Homo sapiens: one gene and its partner. The protein of the gene in region 1 interacts with the protein of each later gene in a biochemical or structural test. Each region holds a gene or a part of one and is shown in the gene's direction. Other genes may lie near its edges. The genes, in order: FBXO15 and SRPK1.

Evidence for each region.
Region 2: of the proteins of FBXO15 (region 1) and SRPK1, one has a biochemical effect on the other in vitro, tested with the Homo sapiens proteins (one large-scale study listed by IntAct).

The regions. Positions count from the first base shown.
Region 1 is NC_000018.10:74,074,607-74,078,626, reverse strand, and holds part of FBXO15 (F-box only protein 15), read left to right. Parts: intron 1-4,020. UniProt on the Homo sapiens protein: Substrate-recognition component of the SCF (SKP1-CUL1-F-box protein)-type E3 ubiquitin ligase complex.
Region 2 is NC_000006.12:35,872,599-35,876,098, reverse strand, and holds part of SRPK1 (SRSF protein kinase 1), read left to right. Parts: intron 1-1,759; coding exon 1,760-1,866; intron 1,867-3,370; coding exon 3,371-3,500. UniProt on the Homo sapiens protein: Serine/arginine-rich protein-specific kinase which specifically phosphorylates its substrates at serine residues located in regions rich in arginine/serine dipeptides, known as RS domains and is involved in the phosphorylation of SR splicing factors and the regulation of splicing.

The DNA.
Region 1 (4,020 bases):
TCATGAGAGGTTCTGACATGCATCCCCCCCCAGAAGGTTGGGAGTGATTTATTCTGGAGAAGGAACCCAGTGGAGAAAGAGATGCTTCGGACAGGATGGGAAATAAGGAGCGAGCTTCTAGAGGTGAGGGGCAGCTGGCCCGGGGAGGGGTGCGAGACCCACTGTGCCGCTGCGGCTGGTGCTGAGGCGGGCCTCTTCCTAGCTGGCTGTCCTGCCTGGGGTGGGCTAGCACCCGGGGACAGGAGGGACAGTGACTGGGGGGCATTGGAAAGGCTGCTGGGGCAGGTCGGGGGGGGGCCTTGAAACCCTCAGGAAAGAATTTGGATTTTGGTGTATCTGTGGATGTTGTTAAAGAGTTTGATGTGCCTATCGTGTGCTAGGCCATGTTTTAGGTTAGGAGGGAATTGGAGAATGCTGGACTTTGAGAACTAGGAGGGCTTCAGAGGAGAGTCAGCTCCCAGCTCTTGATCTGGCAGCAGAGGAGGTGGGAGAGCAGAAAGACTGAGACACCCACCGACGGCTTAGGGCTGTGAGCAGCGTCCTCACCAAGGAGCCCTTGTGCCCCACCGGCCGCTCCTTCCTGACTTCTGCCAGGGTTTCTCCTCCTCAACCTTCTCGCAGGTGATGGGACCCAGGGCTCCACCTCCTTCCTCCCATAGGATCTAACCACCATCTCTATGCTGGTGGGTTTGGTGAGGTTGTAAGTAACACAGTCAAGTGACTGCTAGCCCAGTGGCTAAGGTCGTGCAGGGTGGTGGGGTGTGGAAGATGGATGCACCATGCAGTCCCACCTGCTGTGTTATCTCAGAGGTGCTTAGACCTCAGAGCCTTCTCTCTAAAACGGCCACAGTGGTAATGCCCATTCCAGGAGGGCTCCGGCTGCCTGCCAAAGACAGAGCCATCTGCTGGCCCTCAGTATTGGCTTCAACTCCCCCATTCTCAGCCTCAGTGAGGCTGCAGTGTAGGGTGTTTTTTCTTATTCCCCACCTGCTCCCCACTCTGGTGTCCTCCTCGCAGCCCAGGCTCTGTGTGTGGTGGTCCCTGTCATGCAGGAAGCAGTGGGTGCTGTGGAACAGGCTGTGTGGGGCTGGTCGCTGCTGTTCCAGGACCACTGCAGCCGATTGCCTGGGAAAGGCATCAGGGAGCAAGGTCAGGTGTCTGAGGGGTTCCTGGGTGGTCTCACTGTGTAGCTCATCTGATGTGAGGGGCCTTAGGCTCTGGCGTGCACTCTCCCATCAGGGATTAGTGTGTTTCATGCTGGCTGCTTCTTCACCCATCTCTTCTTTCCTGGTGTTTGCTGCCCCTGATGCATTAGGGCTCCTGCTGTCCTACCTTAGTGTTTAATAACAACCAGCACCTCCATCACTACTCTTACCACCTCCCTCTCATTTTATCACACTCATTCATTCATTCAGCACATAGTGGTTGAGCTTCAGTGACTGTGTGCATATGCAGGTGGCCAGGGGCACGATGCTGAACCAAGCTGGCCTAAGTCCTGCCCTCTTGGTGCTTAGCATCCATCTCTACCTGCACTGGCCGGGCCGAGTCAGTTTCAGCACTGCAGCTGTATCAAGTTCTGCATTCAACACACTGGTGTTTCTGCCCATTGGGTACATGGTCAGTTGAGATGAGAGTATCAGGGAAACTTCCTCAAGGGACTGGTATTCGAACTGAATGCTGAGATGGACAAAGAGAAGATGGGAAGAGGATCTCTCAGCAGGGGAGCTTGGGTGGCTCTTTGTCAGCTGGGGGCATGGTGTGTTCAAGGGTGAAGGGTCAGTGTGGCTGGAGCACAGATGGCAAGATGTGTGCAATGAGGTGGGATGGGCGGATGAGGCCAGGTCAGGCCTTAATGGTAGCCGGAAGGAATTTGGTTCTTTCTTGAGAGCCGTGGAAAGTTGTCTCAGGGTGATATGCTCAGACTCATGTTTTGTAAAGGTTTGTCTTCTGAATATGGCGAATGAGTGGGGAGATCAGTTAGATGGCTGCCTCCTTAAAGGAAGAGCAGTCACTTGGTTTCCTAGTCTGCTTGGCATGCTATCACATATCACCATCAGCTGGGTGGCTTTTAAGCAATAGAAACTTACTTCTTACAGTTCTGGAGGCTGGAAGCACCAAGGTCAAAGCACCAGCAGATGGGTGTCTGGTGAGGGCCCTCTTCCTAGTTCCTAGAGGCACCTTCTAGCAGTGTCCTCACCTGGTAAAAGGAGTGAGACAGCTCTGTGGGCCTCTTTTATAAGGACCTCAGTCCTATTCATGAGAGCTCTGCCCCCGTGACCTAATCACCTCCTAGAGGCCGCACTGCCTAAACAGTCACATTGGTGATCAGATTTTAAGACACGGATTTTGGGACGCACAAACATTCAGACCATAGCACTTGGACTAGGGCAGTGGCAATGGAGATGGACAAAATTAAAGCGATTCGAAAGAGAGGTAAGAACTAACGGGATTGGGTGATGGTTGGCTCGTCAGGGCTAGGAGGGAGGCCCCTAGAAGGACGCCCACATTTCAGGCATGCACAGCCAGATGACTGATGATGGTTCCACCAGTCCCTGGGACGAGGAGTACCAGGAGAGCTTTGCTGGGAGGGTCCTGAGTTTGGGCATAGTCCTGCTGGACTTGAGGGACCGTTGAAAGATCCAGAAGTTGAGTACGCACTTGAATATTTAGGTCTTGAACTTAGAAAAGAAGTTCGGCCTGGAGATAAACTTTTGGGAATCACAGGCATGTTGGTGATAACTTAGGATGTGAATGTAGATGAGTTCCATTTATGGGGAGAGATTACATAGAGTGAAAATAGGGCCTAGGACCAAGCTGTAGGAACCTCAGCAATGGGAGTGGGTAGAGAGCTGCAGGGCTTGTGGGTTCTGGATGCATTTGGAGAGGTAGAATTACTCTTCACTGTTCTCTTGAAAAACTAAACACTGCTGAGAAGCAGACTGACAGATGGTCACTGGATTTAGTGGCCTTATCAAGAGATGTTCGGTCAGATGATGGAAAAAGGATACCAGGCCAGAGTGGTTTGATGAGTGAATGGGTATTAATGGACAAATCCAGCGGAGACAGCTCTTTGGAGAGGGTTGTCTGGGAAGCGAGGAAAGAGCAGGGGCCTGCGGGGCCCAGGGAGGCTGTTTCCCTCTCTCTGCCTCTCTAAGATGGGAGTTACTTGAATGTGTTAAAGACTAAAAGCTGATGGGAGGACAGAAGTAGTCACTTGAGAGGGACATCATGCCTTTGCAAGATGGGCTACGCTGCAGCAGGAGGTTACTGGGCCACACCCGGGAGGAGCAGATGAGAAACACATGTGAGGAGAGGTGGGCGCAGAGGAGCTGGGCTGTGGATCTGCAGTGGGAAGTTGAGGAAAACATCCTTCTCCCCTGTCTGTGAAGGCCGAGGTTCTCTGCAGAGATCACCCTCCTAGCAGGATGCAGAGGGCTGAGGGAGGGGATGAGGTGTTGTTCCATGAGGCGGAGAGGGAGCCACCCAGAGAGCCAGGGTGGGACCGTCAGGCCGAGCTGAGGATGGTGCAGCTGCATGGGCACCCAGCAGCTCTGCGTGCAGCCCTCCCGCTGTGCTTGGTGCTCAGGTCCAGACAGATAGAAAATAACTGCGCTCCTCTGGGGCTGGGGTTTTGCTGGACCTGGCCCTAAGGTGTGTTGCAAGGGGAGTGAGGGAGGTATGTGCATTGGCAAGAGTGTTATTCCAGCAAAGGCCAGTGAAATCTAAAGTGGAAAGGAAGAGGCGGGAGAAGGAAGGGCTGGCTAGTGGGTGGGCTAGGTCCATGGGCAGTGCTCTTCAGGCCTTTTTACATATCCACTGCGGTATGGGCATATACAGACCACACATTCATGTGCAATGAAAGCAGCGTTCATGAAATGACGTTTATGCTTAGTGTATGTAATGCATGCCGACTATGTTCTTTTTCATTTTATTTTGACAAACAGTTGTGTCCTGCTAAATTTACTTCAGGATACATTAATAGGTCATGGCTTGCAGGGTGAAAACACTGGGTAAATCTGA
Region 2 (3,500 bases), on another chromosome or scaffold:
TTTTTTTTTTTTTAATTTAAGAATCCAGGCTAGTTGTTTTATGCCACCTTAGTTTGGATTTGTTTGATTGTTTCCTCATGATTAAATTCAGGTTAACCGTGTTTGTCAAGCATAGTACATGGATTATTGCATTAGAATATGCATTCGAATGCATATTAGTATATTGCATTAGAAGGCACATGGTGTGAATTTGTGCTTATCATTGGTGGTAGTAAGTTTGATCACTTGGTTAAGGCAGTGCCTTCCAGATTTCCCAGTTGTAAAGGTACTTTGTTCTTTTTGTAATTAATAAGCAATCTGTGGAATGATATTTTGACACTGTGACAATCCTTTTTCCCGACAGTCTTTCACATAGTTGTTTTAGTATTCACTGATTCTTACCTGAATCAGTAATAGTATACTATAGTGATTGTAAAAATGGTGATTTTCTATTTCTGTAATCCCTTATGTATTTATTATTTGGCTTTCTTCTCTAAAGAAGATGTTTCTCTTCCTCCTGCCTCCACACTTACTTTCAGATCAGTGTGGACTTGTTCTGTTTTTAATTCATATATTAACTCATAATTTTATCCTTTATAGTGGTCTGGCCGGGCGCAGTGGCTCACGCTTGTAATCCCAGCACTTTGGGAGGCCAAGGCAGGTAGATTATGAGGTCAGGAGTTCAAGACCAGCCTGGCCAATATGGTGAAACCCCATCTGTACTAAAAATACAAAAATTAGCCCAGCGTGGTGGTACACACCTGTAGTGCCGAGAGGCAGAGGTTGCAGTGAGCTGAGATAGTGCCACTGCACTCCAGCCTGGGCAACAGAGCCAAGACTCTGTCTCAAAAAAAAAAAAAAAAAAGAAGTCTCCATGTTGGCTGGTGACATCCTTTTCAAGATGGTTCCTGTTTCTTCCTGACAGGTTCTTTTATTTGTTAGAACAGCAAGGTGTTCCAAGTTTACCCTGTTATTTTTCCTACCTTGGATTTGGCCATTTTTCCAAGGAGCTCAGGCTTTCCTTTAATGGAGAATGTTAAAGTCTGAGCACTAGACCATTACTATATATGTATGTCTTAACTTGCATGTAGAAGCCAGTGGGGGTGGAAGACATCAAGATACTACTAAAATCTCTGTAGTGCCCTGCACAATTTTAGACTCAGAGTATTCCTGCTGTGTGGTGTCATCAGGTTGTTCATACATAAGGACAACACATGGTGGCACTGGAATCAAGATTAGTTTTGTAAAATACAGAGCATTAAGCAAGTTTCCTATTTAAAAAAAAATGTTGGCATTTACGTTTTTGAGGTTTAAGTCTTTCTTGTACATTCATCTCTTCTATAGTTAAGGAATAATTTGTTTTTCCTTGCTTTGAAGCTGTGAGAGTGGGAATTTTTACCCTGGACACCAATTTTGATATTAGGGAAGAAACTAATTTACCTGAAGCTAATCAACAGCTTGAGGCTTGAGCCTACTGCTTTCTTTCACTATTTGCATATGTAGGTTTCACTTTTTCTTTTACCATTGAGTATTTTAATGTACATAATAATATTGATGAAGCCAGCCGCCCACAATTTAATGTTTCATGAATGCTTTCATTGACTATAGCATTAGACTTTGAAATTTTAGAATATTAACAGCTACATATTTATTCATTCAAGCTCTGTAACTTTTTATACTGAAAGAAAATAATACATAACATTTAATAGGGTGGAATTCACAGCTTGTCTTGCCGTGTTCTTCTTTTGTGCCGTTTTTTCCCTCCTTAATGAATTCCTAGATATCTGCATGGTATTTGAAGTTTTGGGGCATCATCTGCTCAAGTGGATCATCAAATCCAATTATCAGGGGCTTCCACTGCCTTGTGTCAAAAAAATTATTCAGCAAGTATGTATCTTGAATCAGCAAGTATCTTAGTCTTGACTATGTAGTGATTTTTTAATATTCTTGAAGTGTCAGGACTTTATTTTTTCCAATAGAATTTTTGTTTTAAGGCCGGGTGTGGTGGCTCATTCCTGTAATCCCAGCACTTTGGGAGGCCGAGGCGGGCAGATCACGAGGTCAGGAGATCAAGACCATCCTGGCTAACATGGTGAAACCTCCTCTCTACTCAAAATACAAAAAGTTAGCCGGGTGTCTTGGCAGGCACCTGTAGTCCCAAGCTACTCGGGAGGCTGAGGCAGGAGAATGGCGTGAACCCAGGAGGCGGAGCTTGCGGTGAGCCGAGATCACACCACTGCACTCCAGCCTGGGCGACAGAGCGAGACTCCGTCTCAAAAAAAAAAAAGAATTTTTGTTTTAAAATTCTTTGTTTTAAAAAGTAAGTTATTGGCTGGGCGCGGTGGCTCACGCCTGTAATCCCAGCACTTTGGGAGGCCGAGGCGGGCAGATCACCTGAGGTCAGGAGCTCGAGACCAGCCTGGCCAACAGTGCGAAACCCCGTCTCTACTAAAAATACAAAAATTAGCCGGGTGTGGTGGTAAGCGCCTATAATCCCAGCTACTCGGCAGGCTGAGGCAGGAGAATCGCTTGAACCCGGGAGGCGGAGGTTGCAGTGAGCTGAGATCGCGCCACCGCGCTCCAGCCTGGGCGACAGAGCAAGACTCCATCTCAAAAAAAAAAAAAAAGTTAATTGCTAAAATTAAATATTTCATTCAACCTTTAGAATTTATTGTGCTTATTCTCTTTTTAAATGTTTTAGCATAACCATTTTCCCCCAGGTTTGCCTCCTATAATAATTAGAAAGGGAAGCTGAGGTTCCTGACTTGGGAACATTGGAGCCCTTATCCAGAAGTTCTGGTTGCAAATAGTAATTTTACATGAATAGATAATTGCTATGTCAGATTATTGCCATCTCTTTATACAGCATGATTCATAGGCATTTTCTAATTTTCTAAAGAGCCTTCAATATACAGTATAGATTTTACCATCAGGAAAATATTAATACTTCAAGGTGCAAAAATTTGTTTGGATTATATGTCCTGGAAAGAGCTCCAAACTGGGCAGCAAGAGACCTCAATTCTTCCTCAGTGAGGAAATTTGAATTAAAGATATCTAAATGTCTGTCAGCACCTACATTACAACACTTAGAGGGTGTGTGTGTGTTGAAGTTTATTCTCAGTCTTTGCATTGTACATAGTTGAAGAATATCTCCAAATAGAATCAGCTTTGTAAAACATTGAAGAATTTTTTATTGTAAATAATTTCTTGCCTTTTTCATAGTTTAATCTTTCTGAGAAAGTTTATTTGTGCTTTTTTAAAAGGTGCTTTTATTCTCTATAGAAAACGCTATCATATCTTTTTTTTTTTTTTAATGTCATGTTATAATCTCTTACTTCTCCAGAAAGCCTGTATTTTGTGTTTGCAAGTCTGCCACTCTATTTCCATTCAGGTGTTACAGGGTCTTGATTATTTACATACCAAGTGCCGTATCATCCACACTGACATTAAACCAGAGAACATCTTATTGTCAGTGAATGAGCAGTACATTCGGAGGCTGGCTGCAGAAGCAACAGAATGGC